6 linked regions of the Homo sapiens genome follow. The protein of the gene in region 1 interacts with the protein of each later gene in a pairwise test. Each region holds a gene or a part of one and is shown on either strand. Other genes may lie near its edges.

Region 1 (3,500 bases):
GTGTTTGTTCTAAGCTTCTCTGTGCTGAGTGGAGTTCCCAGTCTACTCCCAATGCAATGGCCTGCTTTCCTCCCAGCAGTCACCTACCTTAAAGAGGTGTGGGTGCTTGATGTAGATTCTTCCTCTGGTGCCCCCCATCCCCAGGGCTCTGAAAAGTAAAAGCCAAGTGGTCAAGATTCCAGAAAGTGTAGTCCTACTAGTGAACTCCTGAGCTGTTTCCTCAATCAGTGCCAAAGCTCTTAAACTTACTTGTTGGCTCGAGATCCCAACACAAAGGTGGTAGATTCATTCAGGCGAGCTGGGTCCCACTGTGCAAAAAATAGAGAAGCTCGTGAGGGTGAAGTTTAATCTGATGGGTAGGACAGAAACACTCCTCCCCCTACCCTTTTCTAACCCTTCCCCTTGTCTATTATTTAATCAACAGTTGACCCAAGACACTGAGTACTCACAATATGCTAGGCCCTGTCTGTGCTAGATACTGGGGATAAAGAGATGAATAAGATACAGTCTCTGTTTTCTAGGATGCCACCAACATATGTACAGATAATTACACCATTGTGCGATGAGGCAAGGACACAAGTGAGTGCAGGGTCTGAGGGCTGCCGAGGGGAGGGTCCAGCCAGGAAGGCTTCCTTAGAGAGGCATTTCCCAAGTTAATTCTGAAAGGGTGAGCACAAGTTGGGGTAAAGGGGGTCAGGAACAAGGGCATTCCAGACAGGGGGCAGCATGAGCAAAGACAGGTGAGAGGCAGCTTGGCCTGCTGGAGAAACTACTAGTAATTCTGTGCTGCTAACAGAGAGAGTACAAATTAGGGAGTGGCAGCTGATGGGGCTGGAGAGAGAAACACAGAGGAGTTGGAGGTCTTAGGAGGTTATGTTCAGGGGACTGCATTTTATTTCTTCTGTAGGCAATGGGGAATCGCTGAAGGCCTCTAAACAGGGAGTGAGAGTCAGATTTCCTTTAAAGATAGCTTAGTCTTCTAGCAATGTGGATAATGGATTTGAAGGGGCAAGACTACAGGCAGGGAGAGCAGTTTAGAGGCCGCTGTGATAAAGCAGTTGGAAAGCTGCTAAGGGCCTGAGCTAGGGCAGCAGTAAGGATGAACAGAAGGAAATAGGAACTGCAATATATTTAAGAGGAAGAATTGTCCAGGACTCGACTGGGTGTAGGGAGGTAAGGAAGAGGAGGAGGAGGCAAAGATGATTAAGATAACGAATGTAAAGAAGGGCTGTGAGGAAAGATTCTAATTTCATGTTTGGATATGCTGAGTCTGAAATGCCTATGAAACTTCCAGCAGAGTGGTCAAGCAGATAGTAGGATAAACAAGTTTTAAAGTAGAAAGAGGCATGGGATGGACAAAGAGGTATGGGAGTTTTAGAACATGGTGGTCCCTGAAACCATAAGAGTATATGTTTTAGATTATCCAGAGAGTTACTTTAGATGGAGAAGTGGGCCAAGGAGAGAATTCTGGGGAACAACCATTTATATAAGTCACTGCTGAGGAAGAACTCAGGAGAGAGAGGGAGGCAACAGAGGCTAATGGTTGAGAGCACAGACTCTGGTGTCAGCGGGTCTTGGGTTTGAGACTCAGCTCGATCACTTACGAGTTATGTGACTTTGGGCAAGTCTTAAGTGCATTAAGTGTATAAGACAACTGAATAAAATAATTTATGCCCACAGGGAAGCTGGCAGAAAAGGAAACGCCTCATTTATAGAATGGTTCACAGAATTGATCTCATAAGTTTGTTATAAAGATTAAATGAGATGGTCTACACAAAAGATTTAGGACACTGCCCGTTACATACTAAGTATTGAATCAGTATTAGTGACCACTAACTCCTATAAGGAGAAGGCTTCAGCAAAGACTCAAGCCCTCTCTTTGTTTTGCCTCTAACTCCAATTCCTACACAGGATCCTCTCTGAGGCCAGTGTGGCTGGAGGTGGAGAGGGGCAGATGGCTCTGGAATGGTGTGCATGCACCCTTCGCCCCCTGCCCCTTTCCCTCATGGTGGGTCCTAGAGATAGTGGGACTATCTCCTGGGATCGTGATCTCTGCCATGCTCACATAATCATACCTTGGGGCCTTCCCGGCGAATTGGTTCACAGGATTTTGGTTTCCATCTGCTTGGAAGGAAAGAATAAAGGTGAATTCTCCAAGGTGAGACCTAGGACTAAATGCCAGCTTGCTGGTGGTGGTAGGAGTTCCTCACACACTCTCACTTTAGCCCTGGACATCCTCCTTCGTGGTGACACATAAGAGGAGGAACAAAGGGAAAAAAAGCACTGGACTAGAAGCCATTCTAGCACTAGCTCTGCTCTTACATAGTGGCATGAGCAACTCCAAGAACCTCTGAGTGGCAGTTTTCTCATCTGTCAAAAGAGACAAAAACAGCAACTGCCCTACCTATCTTGTGTTTGTGAGGAATAAAACTGCTTCGTGTAGGAGACACATCTAAGGTATGACAGTTAATACTAGCCCATCTACTAAGCCAGCTGTTCCAAACTAACCCCACGCCCCTGAACCAGACCAGTGTGGCTTTATTTGATTTAAATACTGGGCTCCCATGTAAAGTTTTGTTTGAAAAAGATTCTGCTGCTTCAGAATTTTTTTTAAAAAGTGGGGTTGGGGGTTGGTTGAGGGGGAAGGAAGGATGAACAGGCAGAACACAGAGGATTTTTAGGGCACTGAAAGCACTCAGTGTGATACTAGAATGGTGGATGCCTGTCACTATGCATTTGTCTAAGTTCATGTACAATACCAAGAGTGAACCCTCATGGAAACTATGCACTCTGAGGATCAAGACGAGTCAAAGTAGGCTCATCAAATGTAACAAATGTACCACTCTGGTGCCTGATGTCGATAATGGGGGAGGCTGTGCATGTGTAGGGTCAGGGAGTATACGGGATATGTCTGTACCTTCCTCTCAATTTTGCTGTGAACCTAAAACTGCTCTAAAAAAATTAAGTCTTAAAAAAATATATATTTGAAAATGACCGTCTTGGAGGCAATGTTAACGATATGACATTAGGCAAGTAATTCTCTGAGTCTGTTATCTGAAAAATTAATGATATCTTCTTTACAGGGTGGCTATAAAGATTAAAAGGTAAAGTATGTAACGTATTTAGACCAGTCATAAGCATCCAATATATACTAACAATGACAAACCTCTGGAGTTTAATCTTTCATCAAGCTGGGCCAAACCGTTCAGGGGGTAAAACAATTTCCTCCTCACTACCCTCCTTCCTCACCCCTCCAACCAGGATAACCCCCCTCCACGATGACTTAAGCTGATGGATCTGATTTTGACAGGCACAGAACCCTGGACTCTTTTCCTTCAGGGCCCCTCTCTCCGTCTGCTCCCCTATGCTCTCACCACACTGTTGGTCCCTACTCACACCATGCCGGCGGCTGCCCGGTCGCTTGACAGGATGTGTCCAGGAGGCCGTCCTTTCCTCTGCCACAAAAAACAGCTGTCAGAGGTCTGACCCTGTGGTTACTC
Region 2 (3,415 bases), on another chromosome or scaffold:
TTGCTGGAGCAAGGAAGTGACTTGAGCCCAGCTCCCTGGGACGGAGTGCGGGGGATTGCAGGAGCAGGGCCTCTGTGCAGCGTGGGTCTGGCAAGCCCATCCCCTCCCAGACCACTGCCGCCGCTGTGTGGCCGTTTGACCCGACTGGGCACAGGAAGGGGTTTAGACCGTGCTCTCTCTTGCCTGGTTCCTCTTCAAGTAGCTCCTCAAGGAACCGGCCCCATCCTAACACAAATGTTTTTTTGTCACAGATGAGGAAGAGGAAGAATTCATTGAAGAAGAAGATCAGGAAGAGGAAGAGTCCACAGAAGGGAAGGAAGAAGGTAAGAAATTCATCTACCTCCATTCCTTCGTTCCTTCATTCATTCCACAACAATCTGAGGTGCCTACTGTATGTGAAGCACTGTGTTAGACATTGGCAATGACGCTCAGAACTGTCCCCAGCACGTGCTTTAACCCTACTGAGGGTAAAGTCCTGTTCTCTTTACCCTTAGAAAAGAAAAAAACCCCAAACTATTCATAATAAAATGCTCCCATTTCACATCTAAATGATCTTCTTAAATGGAAAGCAATATGGCACAGCAGAGGGAAAAGACAGGGGCTCATGAGCTAGGCTGGGCCCATTGAGGTGTTTTGTTTGGCCAGCACTGTGTTTAAATTAAAACAAACAAACAAACAAACAAAACTACTTGCTGGACAGGCACGGTGGCTCGAGCCTGTAATCCCAGCACTTGGGGAGGCCAAGGCCAGCCTGGCCAACATGGTGAAACCCTGTCTCTACTAAACATACAAAAAATTAGCTGAATTTGGTGGCAGGCGCCTGTAGTACCAGCTACTTAGGAGGCTGAGGCAGGAGAATCGCTTGAACCTGGGAGGTGGAGGTTGCAGTGAGCCGAGATCGTGCCACTGCACTCCAGCCTGGGTGACAAGAGTGAGACTCCATCTCAAAAAATAAATAAATAAATACTTGCTGGCTGGGTGTGGTGGTACGTGCCTATAATCCCAGCACTTTGGGAGGCTGAGGCGGGAGGATTGCTTGAGACCTGGAGTTTGGGACCAGCCTGGTCAACAGCAAGTCCTCGTCTTTACAAAAATAATTTAAAAATTAGCCAGGCATGGTGGTACATATCTGTAGTCCTAGCTACTCGGAAGGCTGAGGCTGGAGGATTGCTTGAGCCCAAGAGGTAGAGGCTGCAGTGAGCTATGATTGCGCCACTGCACTCTTGCCTTGGCAACAGAGGACACTACACTGTCTCTTAAAAGAAAAAATTAATTGCTAACATTTTTAAAATTAGGTTTTTTTTAAGGGTTAAGAAAAAGGAGATTTGAACTAAGAATCTGCATTTTCACCTTGTGAAAGTTTAGAAAAAGCAAACAATGCTGGACTTGAACTTCCTTGTAGTCCCAGAGTGCTGGCTCTGGGCAGTGGCTCTCCCCTTTAAAGGGGACACGCTGGCATGGTGGCTCACGCCTGTAATCCTAGCACTTTGGGAGGCCGAGGCAGGCGGATCACCTGAGGTCAGGAGTTTGACACCATCCTGGCCAACATGGTGAAACCCCGTCTCTACTAAAAATACAAAAATTAGCCAGGCGTGGTGACGGGCACCTGTAATCCCAGCTACTTGGGAGGCTGAGGCAGGAGAATCGCTAGAACCCCAGGGGGGCGGAGCTTGCAGTGAGCCGAGATCACGCCACTTCACTCCAGCCTGGGCAAAAGAGTGAAACTCCATCTCAAAAAAAAACAAAGAAAAGAAAAGAAAAATGGGACATGCCCTTGCCAGTTTGCCCAGCCCCACCACCACCAGTCCCGCTTGCTTCACTCATTCATGTTATCTGCTGGCTCCTTGTAGGCATCTGAGTTTGCCAGCCTGGCAGAGTTTGATTAGGAGCCTGGGTTCTGAATCACAGCAGCTCACAATTTCTCTGAGTCTTGGGCTACTCATCTGTGTATGGGGGTCTAACAGTACTGACGTCAAAAGGTTGTAGTGGGAAGTGAATAAGATAATCGTTTAGCACGGTGTCTGATGCATAGGAAGGACGTTTGCTAATTAGCACATGCTTGCAAATGTTATTTTTCAAACCACAGGTACTGAAACTAAATTCCAATCCAGTTGAAAACTATAGGTAGTCTTTTGGAGTTTTGTACTGATGTACAATCCATAATATTTGGGCAGCTAAATTCTATTTTGGTTTTAAAAGGAAGAGACCGGGAGGAATTGGAGTTTGATGTTTTATTCAAACTCCTGTTTGAATAAACAGTAGCTTGGTAAGCCTTGGATCCTCCTGAGTCCCTGTCTCACCCCTTGCCTCTGTATCTTTTTCTTCATTTCAGGACACCAGTAAGGAGCTGGATGAATGAGAGGCCCCCAGATGCAGAGAGACTGGAGAGGGTGGGGAGGGGCCCAGCGGCCTTGGTGACAGGCCCAGGGTGGGAGGGGTCGGGGCCCCTGGAGGGGCAATGGGGAGGTGATGTCTTCTCTCTGCTCAGAGAGCAGGGACTAGGGTAGGACCCTCACCGCTGCGTCCAGCAGACACTGAACCAGAATTGGAAACGTGCTTGAAACAATCACACAGGACACTTTTCTACATTGGTGCAAAATGGAATATTTTGTACATTTTTAAAATGTGATTTTTGTATATACTTGTATATGTATGCCAATTTGGTGCTTTTTGTAAAGGAACTTTTGTATAATAATGCCTGGTCGTTGGGTGACCTGCGATTGTCAGAAAGAGGGGAAGGAAGCCAGGTTGATACAGCTGCCCACTTCCTTTCCTGAGCAGGAGGATGGGGTAGCACTCACAGGGACGATGTGCTGTATTTCAGTGCCTATCCCAGACATACGGGGTGGTAACTGAGTTTGTGTTATATGTTGTTTTAATAAATGCACAATGCTCTCTTCCTGTTCTTCAAAGGAGCCGGGGTTTCATTCAGCCTTTTTTTCCTGGAGATGAGGGTTGAGTGTGAATGAACAGGACCCCTGGTAGGAGGCAATGGCAGGGCTAGGCTTAGGTCCCAGTAAAGGAGTTCTCGACACCACCATTTCCCAATGTGGACTCCATGGAAAGCCAGCCCTGAGCTGGTCCTTCAAGAACAGGTTCAATGTGTTGTTGCTCTGGTTCTCCAGAAAACAGAGCCTGAGGCAAAATTTAAATGCTTTAGTTGCAGGTTATAGGGACTTCCCCGTGCTCACTGAAGGCTCACTGAAGGCTCACTGAAAATCATCAAGAAGAGGCAGATTAAGGCTGGGCAGGTGCAGTGGTTCATGCCTGTAATCCCAGCACTTTGGGAGGACAAGGAGGGCAGATCATCTGAGGTCAGGAGTTCCAGACCAGCCCGACCAACATGGTGAAGCCCCGTCTCTACTAAAAATACAAAATTAGTTGGGCGTGGTGGCGCATGCCTGCAATCCTAGCT
Region 3 (3,500 bases), on another chromosome or scaffold:
GAGGACTATACCAATTAGAATTACCTGATATACTTATGAAGGATATATATTCCTGGGCCCATCTCAGATTTTAGGAATCTGGGGGTAGAACTCAGGAAACAAAATATATATATATATATATATTTTTTTTTTTTTTTTTTGAGACGGAATCTTGCTCTGTAGCCCAGGCTGGAGTGCAGTGGCGCAATCTCAGCTCACTGCAACCTCTGCCTCCCAGTTCCCAGTTCAAGCAATTCTCCTGCCTTAGCCTCCCGAGTAGCTGGGATTACAGGCGCGCCATGATGCCCAGCTAATGTTTTAGTATTTTTAATAGAAACAGGGTTTCACCATGTTGGCCAGGCTGGTCTTGAACTCCTGATCTCATGATCCGCCCACCTCAGCCTCCCAAAGTGCTGGGATTACAGGTGTGAGCCACTGCGCCCAGCCAGAAACTAAAATTTTAATACTTTTTCCAGGCAATTCTTCAACACAAAAGTTGAGATCACTGTTTCCTTCTGTTGTAGCCTAAGTGCTTAGAACTCTGTGACTCCCCAACTATTTATCTCCTGTGGCTTTGTAATCTGACTCCAATCTTCTAGGTTCCTTAGTTGCCTATCCTTGACTTGTACTTATTTCTAAAAATCTTGGCCCTGGTTTGGTAATATAATAAAGACTTGGATATGGAAATTTTAGCTCTGAAGTCCATATAAACTCCAATACTGACATAGGAATAAAAAGCTCCAGTTCCTTTCCCTGAAATCATGGAGCTTTTGTTAAATATCACCTATGGTGTTGACTGGACATTGGATTGACCCAGTATGTCAATTCTTTTGTTGCCAGATCTGCAGAGAACAAGATGCTCACTACTACAGACTCAACTATTTGAATTCCTGCTTATTGTCTCTAAAGAAAGAAGGCACAAATTTTCTTGTCAGGGATGAATGACATTTGCTAAGAGAACAGTTGTCACTATATAGATAGAGGGTGCCTATGAGAATGTTCCAGTTCCTAGAGTAGTGATGAAATGAGTTCTCCTAAGATGTCTCTAGATCTTAATGATGGGACAAAAGAATGTCTACTTGATATGAATAAGAGCTTCTTTATTCAATAAGGGATAGTCTTTGATAGCAGCAATGAGGATCCTGATACAATGGCTTCTAGATACTTTCATGCTTAGTAGGTTAGTGATCCAAACTGTAGAGATAGTACGTTCATGTATCCAGGGCTACCTCTCATTCTCCTTCCTTAATCCTAGCTAGTTCTTATAGTCCTACTTTGTCATCTTTCTGGTTTGCCTGAGGTGACTAGAATAAAAAGCAAATCTTAAATTATAGGAGTCTTTTGCTATTTCCAGCAAACTGATCCTTGCAGAAAAGGATTAAATCCAACCTATCTTTGTATCCCACAAAGTACCTCATCACGCACTGCTAGACTTGACATGTTTAACTGAGTGCCTTGTTCAACACCAACAAGAGAACCCTCCTCATAAAAAGCATCTAAAAGCTTAAGCCTCATATAAAAGGTGCTTTCCACGCTACCTCCCACCAAGGTCACGGGATAAGGATAGACATTTAAGTCATGGTGGTCATGCAATGCATTCAGATTTCTCTCTTGCCAACTGAACTAAAAGAAACACACTGTCACCATCAACAGGTAAACTCTAGTTGAAAGAACAGTTCAAGTCAACACCATGGCAAATCAAATCCACTTACCAGTCAGAGAAGCAGAGACTATGAAAAACCAGGGCAATACAAACAGAACTGGAAGGGAGAAGTGAGAAAGGGAGATGAAGCAGACATGGAAGGAGATGCTGAGACAAGAAACCATTTATCACCAGAACGAGAGCTTGAGAGACTAGCTTCTCAGATTCCTAACGTTTCTCCCATTCACACAAGGTCTAGTCACTCTTCTTCAACCCAAAACAGCTGAATCCCTACAACGCCTGTCCTTGAAGCCAAATGATCCCTAATTCAAGCATTATTTTTTAGTACGTACACCAAGACAAATAGAAAGCTAGAAACATAAATCCAAGGAGGAAAAAATAATTCTACCAGGAAAAAACTGAAATCACAGGTAGCCAAAAAGCTTTGTAAATATGAATCTTATTTATCAGGAAGTACCATCAATATTTGTCATATTCCTGCTAATGAAACAAATTAAACTTTGTCTTTTTTTAATAGAAATTATCACAGTATTGACAAATGAAAAATTGTCTCAAACCCAGAGAAGACAAAAATCAGGTGATCTACCTTTATTTGTTAATACATTTGAAAATATTTTGTTAGCCTGTTTAAAGCAGACTTCCGTTGTTGTCTGTAATAATCGATAGTATATTGGATTAACAGCCTCATCTTTTAAGACAGGCTTTATAATCATATGGCTGATTAAGGGGCAGCAAAGTATAACCAACCCTGTAACTATCCTTTAACTTGTACCTAACAAAAATAGTAACCATAACCTCCCCTTTTATTCTGTAAAGATCCTTTTTCTGAAAATATCTTTGAACTAACTTCCTTTAAAGCTAGTTCCCTTGCAACAAGTACAAAATAAAACTATGACATATGCTGACAATCAATTAATCTGACAAGTTTGCATTAACACTGTCAAAACCAAACTAATGTCAAAATAGCTGTAATTTTGGTTATCTAACACAGATTCTAACATATCCTCTCTAGCAACAAACATACCATGTAAGCCTTGAATTTATTTAAAATTTAAATCTTTTTTTGTTTGTTTGTTTGAGATAGAGTCTCGCTCTGTTGCCCAATCTGGTGTGCAGTGGCGCCACCTTGGCTCACTGCAACCTCCGCCTCCCAGGTTCAAGTGATTCTCCTGCCTCAGCCTCCTGAGTAGCTGGGAGTACAGGTGTGTGCCACCACGCCCGGCTATATTTTTGTATTTTTAGTAGAGGCAAAGTTTCACCATGTTGGTCAGGCTGGTCTTGAACTCCTGACCTCATGATCCATCTGCCTTGGCCTCCCAAAGTGCCGGGATTACCGGCATGAGCCACCACGCCCAGCCTCATTTAAATCTTACACATTTTATTTGTGGACAATTTCAATGTTATCGTTAACTTTTACCAGAAAATTTTAATGGGTCCTAATATTATAATTCCTCATTTAAAAAAAAAAAACTAGCCGACCAGTGGCTTACGCCTGTAATCCCAGCACTTTGGGAGGCCAAGGCGGGTGGATCACCTGAGGGGGGATTCGAGACCAGCATGACCAACATGGAGAAACCCCGTCTCTATTAAAACTACAAAATTAGCCGGGCATGGTGGCGCATGCCCATAATCCCAGCTACTCAGGAAGGCTGAGGCAGGAGAATCACTTGAACCTGGGTGGCAGAAGTTGCGGTGAGATGACATCGCGCCATTGTACTCCAGCCTGGGTAACAAGAGCGAAACTCCATCTCAAAAAAAAGAAAAAAAAAAAAAACCTAGCCAATATTCAGATTCTCATAACAAAAAAAAAAATTGGTATGTTTGCAATGTCAGGTTCATCTAAAAAATAAACTTTTAA
Region 4 (4,048 bases), on another chromosome or scaffold:
TAACGTTGAACAGTAAGAACCCTTCCTTGGTAGGATGTGATGAGCATAGCACTTTACCTCTGTGATCTTCCTTCCAAAACGCCATAACGCTTGTCTAATCCTGAGAAAAACATCAAATCCCAATAGAGGGCCAGCCCACCAAAGATTTGGCCAGTACTCCTCAAAACTATCAAGGTCATCAAAAATAAAAAGCTGAGGCCAGGCGCGGTGGCTCACGCCTGTAATCCCAGCACTTTGGGAGGCTGAGACGGGCAGATCATGAGGTCAGATCAAGACCATCCTGGCCAACATGGTGAAACCCCGTCTCTACCAAAAATACAAAAATTAGCCGGGCATGGTGGTGTGTGCCTGTAATCCCAGCTGCTCAGGAGGCTGAGACAGGAGAATCGCTTGAACCTGGGAGGCAGAGGTTGCAGTGAGCTGAGATCATGCCACTGCACTCCAGCTAAAATAAAAATAAAAGGCTGAGACACTGTCATTAACAGTAGTCTAAGACATGACAACGAAATATAATGTGGTATCCTGAATGGAAACCTGCAGCAGAAAAAGGCATTAAGTAAAAGGAAGGAAATCTGAATAAACTACACTTTAGTTAATATGACAACAGTGCATCGTTAATTTTAACAAATGTAGCACACTAATAATGTAAGATTTTAGTAATAGGGGAAATTGCAGGGATGGGTGGCACATGGGAACTCTCTACTATCTTCTCAATTTTTCTGTAAATCTGTTCTAAAAAATAACGTCCGTTATTATTATTATTATTATTATTATTATTTGCGGGGAGGGGACACAGTCTTGCTCTGTCTCCCAGGCTGGAGTGCAGTGGTGAGATCTCGGCTCACTGCAATCTCCGCCTCCTGGGTTCAAGCGATTCTCATGTGTCAGCCTCCCCAGTAGCTAGGGCTACAGGTGCCTACCACCACACCCGGCTAATTTTATATTTTTAGTAGAGACGTGGTTTCACCATGTTGGTCAGGCTGGTCTCGAACTCCTGACCTCAGGTGATCCGCCCGCCTCAGCCTCCCAAAGGGCTGGGATTACAGGCAGGAGCCACCATGCCTGGCAAAAATAACGTCCATAAACAAAAACACGTGGCCAACAGGGGCGGAGCAGAACCGAGTTTCCGGAAGCAAAACAGGGCTTTGTACCGAACAAAGATGGCGGCCGCCGGCGTCGGGAGGAGGGCTGCCCTGAAGAAAGATGGCCTCCGCGAGAGGAGGAACCGGAAGCGTGGGTCTGGCGGCTGCACCGGTTCGCGGTCGGCGCGAGAACAAGCAGGGTGGCGCGGGTCCGGGCATGAAGCTGGGCCGGGCCGTGCTGGGCCTGCTGCTGCTGGCGCCGTCCGTGGTGCAGGCGGTGGAGCCCATCAGCCTGGGACTGGCCCTGGCCGGCGTCCTCACCGGCTACATCTACCCGCGTCTCTACTGCCTCTTCGCCGAGTGCTGCGGGCAGAAGCGGAGCCTTAGCCGGGAGGGTAGGCTGGGGCGGGGGCTGGAGGCTGGGGCTGGGGCTGGGGCTGGGCGATGGCACTAGGGCTGAACTAGGACCAGGGCATGGAGAATGGAGGATGGAGGCCGGGGGATGGCACCAGGGCCGGGCTAGGACTAGGGCTGGAGCGGGGCCTGGGGGCTGGGGCTGGGCGATGGCACTAGGGCCGGGTTGGGGCTGGGGCTGGGGCTGGGGGATGGAGCGGGGCCCGGGGGCTGGGGGTGGGGCTGGGGGATCGCACTAGGGCTGGGTTAAGACCAGGGCGGTTGGCTGGGGCTAGGGGATTGAGGATGGTGGATGGAGGCTGGGGGATGGCAGTAGGGCCGGGCTAGGACTGGGGCTGGAGCGGAGTTTGGGGGCTGGGGCTCAGGAGCGGGGGCTGGGGCTGGGGCTGGGGCTGGGGGATGGCACTAGGGCCAGGCCGGGGTAGGGGTCACATCCCAGGAGGGCCGGGCCTGGGCAGAGCTGAGTCCGCGGGGGCCGGACCCCGGAAGCCAAGCGGCCGGCCTGCAGGATGAGGCCTGGCTCCTCGGCCATGACCACAGACGTGCCAGACTTAAGTCGGAGACCTGAGGAGCCAGGCTGCAGGTTGGCCTACTTTGCGCTAAGCTGGGGGTGGACCAGTGGTAACCTCCCTCCGAAGTGGGTTCTGCCTCCTTTCTAGCCTAGCGGGAGACAGGAAGGATGGTGAGGACTCTTCCGCAGCCGACCAGGAGGGACCAAACTGTTTCCTTTCCCGGCTCTGCCTTGGGGTGGGAGGAGCAGCACAGGGGTTAGGGGTGCAAACTGGTGGCAGTGGCAGTGGCACCAAGGGGCTTTTCGGGAAGGAGTCGGGCCAGGGCTTTAGAATAGGCAGGACCAGCAAAGGGAGGGCTCCCTGGACCGCCGTCCCCTCTGGGCCAGGAGCTTACAGACCGCAGTACTTGAGGTTTCGCAAGGTGCTTGGAGGGCGTCTAGACGGCTTTGCTGGCTTTCTTATGGGCTGTAAATGTGGCTACATTTTGCCGCTGTTTCTTCCCCACTCCTGATTGGCTTTGTCTTTCCCAGCACTGCAGAAGGATCTGGACGACAACCTCTTTGGACAGCATCTTGCAAAGAAAATCATCTTAAATGCCGTGTTTGGTTTCATAAACAACCCAAAGCCCAAGAAACCTCTCACGCTCTCCCTGCACGGGTGGACAGGCACCGGCAAAAATTTCGTCAGCAAGATCATCGCAGAGAATATTTACGAGGGTGGTCTGAACAGTGACTATGTCCACCTGTTTGTGGCCACATTGCACTTTCCACATGCTTCAAACATCACCTTGTACAAGGCAAGGATGGAAGTTTGGAATCCCTTCCTGGATGTCATCGGGTTTGGGGTCTCTTTGTTGTGGGATGAGATTTGGGAGTTCTATGTTGAAATGAGTGAGCCCGGAAAACGGTTCATGTCTCAGTTCCCCTTGGAAAGGTGTAGAAGTTAAGAGTTTGAGATGCGTGGAGCAGTTAATACCATCAAAGCTTTGTGGTGGGTTCTGAAAATCGGTCCAGTGAGTATGTAGGGTCATGGGATTTTAGAGGTGGACATGATCAAATCCATCTTAGAGATCAACACATCTCACTCATTTTTTTATTTTTTTCTTTATTTTGAGACGGAGTTTCACTCTTCTTACCCGGGCTGGAGTGCAATGGCATGATCTCAGCTCACTGCAACCTCTGCCTCCCGGTTGAAGCAATTATCCTGCCTCAGCCTCCCGGGTAGCTGGGATTACAGGGTCCTGCCACCATGCCCAGCTAATTTTTGTATTTTTAGTAGAGATGGGGTTTTGCCAACTTGGCCAGGCTGGTCTCGAACTCCTGATCTCAGGTGATGTGCCTGCCTCAGCTTCCCGAAGTGCTGGGATTACAGGCGTGAGCCACCATGCCTGGCCACATCTCACTCATTTTGTGAAAGAGGAAACATGTAGAGTCCTAAGTTTGTTGAACCTACTGTTGTAAACTGCCTTTTTTTTTTTTTCTTTGAGTCAGGGTCTCACTCTGTTGTCCAGGCTGGAGTGCAGTGACGCCATCTCAGCTCACTACAGCCTCCACCTTCCCGGTTCAAGCGATTCTCCTGCCTCAGCCTCCCAAGTAGCTGTGACTACAGGCATGTGCCACCACAGCCGGCTAATTTTTGTATTTCTAGTAGAGATGGGGTTTCCTCACATTGGCCAGGCTGGTCTCGAACTCCTGACCTCAAGTGATCTGCCTACCTCAGCCTCCCAGAGTGCTAGGATTACAGGCGTGAGCCACCTTGCCCAGCCGCAAACAGCTTTTATGGTTGAACTCACTGATGAGCAGCTTGGGCTTTGGCAGCAGACACATCTGGATTTGAGTCCTAACACTCTCCCAGCTCCGTAGTCTTAGGAAAGTTGCCTGACCTGAGACTCAGATTCTGACTTACAAAGTGTTGCTTGTAACAATCCAGGGAGCTCTGTCTGTCAAGTGCATAACATGTACCTGGTGCATGTTACAAATAAATGTTAACTGTTGCCTTTTAGATCCTTGTAGCAGACCTGCAAGATGGGCAAAACAGTCA
Region 5 (3,500 bases), on another chromosome or scaffold:
GGTTCTGAATCAAGAGAAAAACTTCGGTATTCTCTAAGAAGATAGTACTAAAAACACCCAAACAAACTTTAAGAGGACCTCCACATAAAATAATTTCTAAAAAAATAAATGTTGATGCTTAACAGGTTTTGCTGCTTTATTAGGAAAGCTGTTACAACACTCACAAGGACCTGAGAAGAAATGCAGACAAAACAAAACCTTATTTTCAGAACTCAAGGTATCTATGTAGTTCTGAGGAGATATAAAATGGTGTGAAAATCTGCCTCAAGGCTCTAGAGCAGGGGTTGGGAACCGGTGGTCCAGTGGCCAATTCTGGCCCACCACTTGTTTTTGTAAAATAAGCTCCATTGGAACACAGTCACACTCATTTATTTATGTATGGCTCCTTATGTACTAAAATGGCCAAGCAGACTAGTTGTGACAGAGACTATATAAACAGGCTACAAAGCCAAATGAACCTACTATTTGGCCCTTAGAGAAAAGGGCTACTGACCCCTGCACATGAAGAACTTCATCTTCTTGATGAAGAAAGAGGCTCCCACACTTGTTTTATTCATGCAGGGAACACACAGCAGGGTTACAGCAACAGGAAAACGTTGCACCCCTCAAAACACAAATTGTACAATGATCCAAGAGTCTGTGGATCAAACAATGTGCTTATATAGTCAGTTCCTTGACGTTTTAAGAAAGCTGTCCCCAGCCCTTCTGGTCATAGAGCTGCTTTTGTATCATGTAATTTTCAGATTAGCTTCCCTTCCAGTCAGGCCCTGACTTCCAGAAGCCCAGGTATGACTTCTTGCCAAAGAGGAAAAAAATGCTGCAATGCCACCCCAGATGGCTAGCTAGCATACTGGCTTTCTCTTCACAAAGGCTGACTCGATGCCAGCTAGAGTCAGCTTTAGGCAGCTTTTCCAAAAAGGTTCACTCTAAAAATTCTCCACTTAAAGGAATGAGCCATTTATATTTCAGAATTATTTCCTAGAAATAGGTGCACAAAAACACATACAACCTCTGATATTTATCTAATGCTTTTTAATACCAAAAGCCCTTTCTCTATCTAGTTTCATTGACTCTTCCAGTACACAGGGCCTCCAAGGCTCTCCTGTTTCTGAAACTGTACAATTATGTGAGATTTTTGGCTACTTCCTGGCAAAGCACCCCTTCTCAAACAATTTGGACATGCCAATCAGTAGTTTGAAAAATGAAATGAAAGCAAGAAAACAACAAAAATCCCAAATAACTGTAGTACTCTGGAACTGCTGAAAGTAGTAAAATTGTGCTTTAAGGCCCAATAGGCACAAAATACACTACACACAGATTATTCAGGATCCCAATGTAATGTGTAAATACTGATTAAAAAAAATTACAACTCTACCATACCAGAAATTTGATGTAAGCTAATAGGCTAGCCATAATAAACATTAAACATTTTATTAACAATAATTTTGCTTGCCTTCTTAGAATTTAGAAGGGCTTTGGGGGATGGTTTGGATGGCCCAGGTCTCTTAAAAAAGGTGTCCAAGGAAGTTTGAATTGATGCCTTCTTTGTCTCTCGATTAATGTCCCTGTAGCAAGCAGAGGCATTCACAATCATTGCATTGACTATAAGAACTGGGCTCAAAGTAGACGGTGTTCAAAATGTATGTGGTTAATGAGGATGAGGATGGTGTTTTTCCCCACTGAAGAATACTGCCAGAAGTCAAAATGGACCCAACTCTTCCCCCCTTCACCTTCTCCTACAGATTTACTTAATTCCAAGTTAGAACTTCAGGAGACCAACCTAGCACCGCCAGGAATCTGAGTGCCAAGTATAGCAGAATGGCGGGACCCCAGGCTTTTCGAAATAGCTCTGGTGTGTAGCCCTGTGGCTCTGCCACAGGGTGTGTGACTCTGGACAAGGGATTCAGCCTCACCCAAGCCTTAGCTTCCTCAATATAAAACAAGGGCCATGCTATTTCTATCCACTTTGTATCGAAGGTTTTTTTTTTTACAATTACTAATAAAACATGCATAAAGCACCCAGTAAATGTATGGGTATAGCAGATCCTCTAAAAATGGTGAACACAACGAAGATTACTTTTTATCCTTCACTATCCTGGGGGACTGAGACTTTCACAGCCACCAGAGGGTCCTCTCATACATTACTGACCAGATCAGGAAAAAACTCAAGCAAACAACTCCCACACAGTATTTGCTTCTGCTCCATTGCTGTGTGCTACAACACTGAAAAAGGCTTCTGATAATCAGAGGATTCAGGCTGCCACGAGAACTAGGTAATGGCCAGTCATCAACTGGCCAACAGTGAAAAGGTACTGCCTGCTACTCTGTTCTTTAAAAATTAAAAGAGAAGGCCAGGCATGGTGGCTCACGCCTGTAATCCCAGCGCTTTGGGAGGCTGAGGCAGGCGGATCACGAGCTCAGGAGATCGAGACCATCCTGGCAAACACAGTGAAACCCCATCTCTACTAAAAATACAAAAAACTTAGCCAGGCATGGTGGCAGGTGCCTGTAGTCCCAGCTACTTGGGAGGCTGAGGCAGGAGAATGGCGTGAACCCAGAAGGCGGAGCTTGCAATGAGCCGAGATGGCGCCACTGCACTCCAGCCTGGGTGACAGAGCGAGACTCCGTCTAAAAAAAAAAAAAAAAAATTAAACCAGAAAAAAAAAGGGGGGTGGCGGGGAGAAGGGTTTCTTATGCTCACAACCTAGGATTAGTATGTCTGTCACTAACCAATAAACAAAGGCTTAGTGTAGCCCATGTGAACGGGAAAGCATCAGCAGTTAAAATTTGGTGCTCCTGTTGGAATTCCCAGCTTAAGGAAATTTGGGCATGAAATAAATTTACAGGTGGAAAGAGAAGAAGAGGTCCCAAGGGCTATGGAAAACACAGCAGACTTCGAATTTTTTTTTTTTTTTTTTTGAGATGGAGTCTTGTTCTGTCACCCAGGCTGGAGTGCAGAGGCATGATCTCAGCTCACTGCAACCTTCGCCTCCTGGGTTCAAGTGATTCTCCTGCCTCAGCCTCCCAAGTAGCTGGAATTATAGGCGCCTGCCACCACGCCTGGGTACTTTTTTGTATTTTTAGTAGAGATGGGGTTTCACGTTGGCCAGGCTGGTCTCAAACTCCTGACCTCAAGTGATCTGCCCGCCTCGGCCTCCCAAAGTGCTGGGATTACAGGCGTGAACCACCGTGCCCAGCCTAGACTTAGATTTGAATCCCTACTCTGCCATTTCTCCTGAGCAATTATCTACATTCTCTAAACTCAGCTTCCTCATCTCTAAAAAGAGGACAGTCATTCTCTCTTCTCTGGGTTACTTAAGGATACAATGGGCAAATGTTCATGTCCTTGGATGCAGCAAAAGTCAGTAAATGTCGGCTTAAATACTGGAAATGGGGGTTGGTTTGAAGGAAACGAATAAAACTAGTAAGAGCCCGAGTATCTGGGTATACCTGTAATAGGAAAAAGGGCAAAATGCATGGAGCACTGGTGAGGCATCACA
Region 6 (3,500 bases), on another chromosome or scaffold:
TCTCCTCCCCCCACCCCGCCTCCCAAAGTCCTGGGATTACAGGCATGAGCCACCGCGCCTGGACTTATGTTTCTATCTATATGTCTGTATATGATGTCTGCCACTGAGGGGCAATGGTACTGTTGTGATTCCTCCAAGATAGAGTGTTTTTGTATTTGAAGAGGAAAAAAAAACAAATGAATGCTCTTGGAGACTGTTTTCCCACATACATCAGTATAGCCAATATGTAATGGAACTGCATTGATAGCAAAGAGTGGGGAAAACAAAGCCATCTTTTTTCATATTATGCCTAACTGAGGTGTTATTTCTGTACCAACCTGTGATCCACTGTCTAGATGAGATGGGTAGGGAGGTGTGTAGCAGAGAAGACACCCTAGAATGCATAGCTAGCGAGGCAGCCTCTTTGGGAGCCAGTAAGTAGAGTGTGTAAGTCCTGGGCCTGCTACTCTGAATTAAGAACGGGAACCTCTGCAGCAAGGCCCCTCTGAGCTTATATATAAGGATTTAGGATGTTTGTTTATGTGTGTTTCAAATCAATGTGATAAGGATGGATTTTTTTTTTTTCCATTCAAGAATCTTGCTACCGTAGCTGGCCCGTCTCATACTATTAGCAGAGGGGTTAAATGTAAAAATAGCAATGGCAGTTGGTCACACTTGTCTAATGTCTGACTTTGATAGGACTGCTTCAGAGTTTCACTGTTGGATACCATGTTTGCAAGTCACCATTGTCAGCACTGTTTGAGAGAGCTGGCCAGACCTAGTCCCTACCCCCAAGGCCAGCATTCCCAGCTCCAGTGTTGCATGCCCTAGCAGGTCTACGTGTTCAATTCTAACAACTAAATTAATTTTACAGTGGGATTCTGTCTCAATGGGAGTATTCCATATTGGGGTGATTTGTTAATAGATGCTATCATCTTGTCATAGATGATAAGGAAATCATTGTGCCGAGGATATTGTTAACACCAGTATAAACAAAGAGCTTCTTAACTGCTCACCTTGCCTTCAGGCTTCCTCATTTCCCAGTCCTTTTGCCATATTGCTGCCATACTTATATTTCTAAACCATTTACTTAATTATGTCCTAGTCTGGTTCAGAAACCTTTGGTGATTCTCTACTGGTTATGACATAAAGTCCAAACTCTTTAGCATTAGTTTTATGTGGTGCCAGCATGCCCTCCCAGCTTCAAAGTCAAGTCACTTACACACTGGCCACTTCAGTGGGTTCCCAGAAACATGCCATGCCATATACATCTTCACACCTTTGTTCATTTCCGGTACCACAATCCTGTCTTTTTTCTTCTCTCCCCACAGTTGTTTATTCAGGCAAATCTGGCTTGCTGGGCTAGGCTCAGCTGAGGGCTGCCTTCGCCATGAATCCTTCTGTGAGTTCCCTGTCTGGGTGTATCCCTAGTACTGCTGTTGATTCTCTTCTTAGAGTACCTATGAATTCACTTGCCCCAGTTTTGCTTTATGGCCAGTTTTTTCTTAGATAAGAGCTAAACCTGATGACAGCCTGTCTGGAGGCACATTAACATTGATGTTACTAGGAGTTTCTGTTCATAGGCTTTCATTTTAAGGTTTGGTTTCATTTTATTTATTTTTTACAGAAAAACAGTTTCTAAATGTTACTACCAGTTTTATGCAAACTTTCAGAGCCTCTAAATAGCTGGTAAAATGGTGAGCATTGATAATGGAGCTTCTACTAATTTCCTGGTTGTTTCAGGAATTTAAAAGAAACTTTTTATCTAACGCAAAAGTTTCTAGTTACCCACAGCATGCATTGTTTTCCATTGTTAGAAATGCTGCTGTTTTTACATTAATTATAATGGGAATGCATAGCTGCCTATGAAAGCTTGTGAGCAAATTTTGGGGAACCACGTGTACTTAATAATAGCAAGGAGTGAGCATGTGTTGGTTGAGATAGATCTTCTATCTCTACTAAGCTTTCCCAAGTCAGGGACAGTGTTGTAATGATCGTACCTGATGTATTCAGTATATTTTGTGTGTGTGTGCATGTTTTTTTGTTTTGTTTTGTTTTTTGAGACGGAGTCTTGCTGTGTTGCCCAGGCTGGAGTGCAGTGGCATGATCTTGGCTCACTGCAACCTCCACCTCCTAGATTCAAGCGATTCTCTTGCCACAGCCTCCCAAGTAGCTGGGACTACAGGTGCCTGCCACCACGCCCGGCTAATTTTTGTATTTTTAGTCGAGATGGGGTTTCACCATGTTGGCCAGGCTGGTCTCGAACTCCTCACCTCAGTGATGCACCTGCCTCGGCCTCCCAAAGTGCTGGGATTACAGGCGTGAGCCTCTGCCCAGCCAGTAATTATCATATTCATATTCCCAGACCTTTATACTATTGAGTAAAATGCTATTTGTTTGCATTGTTGTTTTAAAATCACTAAGTTAAATTTTTTATCTTTTTTTTCAGCCATCAAAAATAAGGATTAATTTAGAAGATAATGTACAATATGTGTCCATGAGAAGTAAGTTGATTCCTGAATAGGTTTTAGGTTTTGTTAGTTTGAACTTCTTATGATTAAAATGATTTGTTTAAGTGTATGAGTTGATGAGAAACTGAAATACAATTTGTTATGTGTACACTGAAATGTAAAGTTGCAAGTTTTAGTAACAACTCCTGAGGTTATGGGTTGAATCATGTGCACAAATGCCAGTTTATTCTCCATAGAACAGTCTGTATTTAAGGCTATTTTCTCAGAATTCCTCCTGGGAGAGAAATGTACTCTTTCCTTCTTGTCCCTTATCTTAGGTTAATGTTTAGGGTATCTGTTAGAGGCGATAGGATGTAAATGGCTCTAGTTCCCTCTTCTGGAAGTTTCCATGATAGACCGCCCCACCTCAGCTTCCTAATCTCAGTGGATACATAGTGCATCGATAAGTCAGTGTGAATCTTAGAAATACTCACCCTTAGTTTTGCCTCAGTGCCTGCCCCAGTCTCACCCATAGTTGGTCACTGAGTTTGGTCAGCTTCACCTTTGATGTGTTTCTTGCATCTGTCCCATACCACCAATTTATAATAATATCTAACATTTATTGAGCTCATACAGTGCCTGGCACTGCATTAAGCTCTCTGCATGGATTGTCACAATGACCTTTCAAAATATAGGTATGGATTAGAATTCTTACTTTATAAAGGCCCAGAGAGGCTGAGGTGAGTTGCTCAGAGTCAGGGTTGAATCTCTTACCTCTCTGACGCAAGAGCCCAGAGTCTTTACCACAACGTTGAATTGCTTCTTCTCGTTCAGGGTCTAACTTCCTCTGTAGCTGAAGTTGCTGGGTCTCCTTCTTAGAAGGCAGTCAGCTTCCAGGCTTTCCAACCTGGATGCTGGAAAAATCCAGGGGGATTTGTCTAATACAGAAATTGGATTATGATATCATTCAACCTAAGTTCTTCAGTGACGCTCTTTTACATGTAGAGAAAACCCTGATTCCTTGTATATTTGATTTTAAGTGTTTGCATTAAATTCATAAGCCACTTCATA

What was found.
Region 2: the proteins of DNTTIP1 (region 1) and TRIM63 interact in a two-hybrid assay, tested with the Homo sapiens proteins (one large-scale study listed by BioGRID).
Region 3: the proteins of DNTTIP1 (region 1) and HMBOX1 interact in binary tests that used the Homo sapiens proteins (3 or more experiments, as listed by UniProt).
Region 4: the proteins of DNTTIP1 (region 1) and TOR1A interact in binary tests that used the Homo sapiens proteins (3 or more experiments, as listed by UniProt).
Region 5: the proteins of DNTTIP1 (region 1) and ANP32B interact in binary tests that used the Homo sapiens proteins (3 or more experiments, as listed by UniProt).
Region 6: the proteins of DNTTIP1 (region 1) and E2F6 interact in a two-hybrid assay, tested with the Homo sapiens proteins (one study listed by BioGRID).

What each region holds. Positions count from the first base shown.
Region 1 is NC_000020.11:45,801,954-45,805,453, reverse strand, and holds part of DNTTIP1 (deoxynucleotidyltransferase terminal-interacting protein 1), read right to left. Parts: intron 3,456-3,500; coding exon 3,397-3,455; intron 2,122-3,396; coding exon 2,076-2,121; intron 309-2,075; coding exon 250-308; intron 149-249; coding exon 88-148; intron 1-87. UniProt on the Homo sapiens protein: Increases DNTT terminal deoxynucleotidyltransferase activity (in vitro). Also acts as a transcriptional regulator, binding to the consensus sequence 5'-GNTGCATG-3' following an AT-tract.
Region 2 is NC_000001.11:26,050,801-26,054,215, reverse strand, and holds the end of TRIM63 (E3 ubiquitin-protein ligase TRIM63), read left to right. Parts: intron 1-251; coding exon 252-323; intron 324-2,332; coding exon 2,333-2,343; 3' UTR 2,344-2,915; downstream 2,916-3,415. UniProt on the Homo sapiens protein: E3 ubiquitin ligase. Mediates the ubiquitination and subsequent proteasomal degradation of CKM, GMEB1 and HIBADH.
Region 3 is NC_000008.11:28,896,895-28,900,394, reverse strand, and holds part of HMBOX1 (homeobox-containing protein 1), read right to left. Parts: intron 1-3,500. UniProt on the Homo sapiens protein: Binds directly to 5'-TTAGGG-3' repeats in telomeric DNA. Associates with the telomerase complex at sites of active telomere processing and positively regulates telomere elongation.
Region 4 is NC_000009.12:129,821,337-129,825,384, reverse strand, and holds the start of TOR1A (torsin-1A precursor), read left to right. Parts: upstream 1-1,248; 5' UTR 1,249-1,299; coding exon 1,300-1,477; intron 1,478-2,538; coding exon 2,539-2,804; intron 2,805-4,048. UniProt on the Homo sapiens protein: Protein with chaperone functions important for the control of protein folding, processing, stability and localization as well as for the reduction of misfolded protein aggregates.
Region 5 is NC_000009.12:98,000,341-98,003,840, reverse strand, and holds part of ANP32B (acidic leucine-rich nuclear phosphoprotein 32 family member B), read right to left. Parts: intron 1-3,500. UniProt on the Homo sapiens protein: Multifunctional protein that is involved in the regulation of many processes including cell proliferation, apoptosis, cell cycle progression or transcription.
Region 6 is NC_000002.12:11,456,162-11,459,661, reverse strand, and holds part of E2F6 (transcription factor E2F6), read left to right. Parts: intron 1-1,309; exon of another isoform or gene 1,310-1,369; coding exon of another isoform or gene 1,370-1,381; intron 1,382-2,428; coding exon 2,429-2,483; intron 2,484-3,500. UniProt on the Homo sapiens protein: Inhibitor of E2F-dependent transcription. Binds DNA cooperatively with DP proteins through the E2 recognition site, 5'-TTTC[CG]CGC-3'. Has a preference for the 5'-TTTCCCGC-3' E2F recognition site.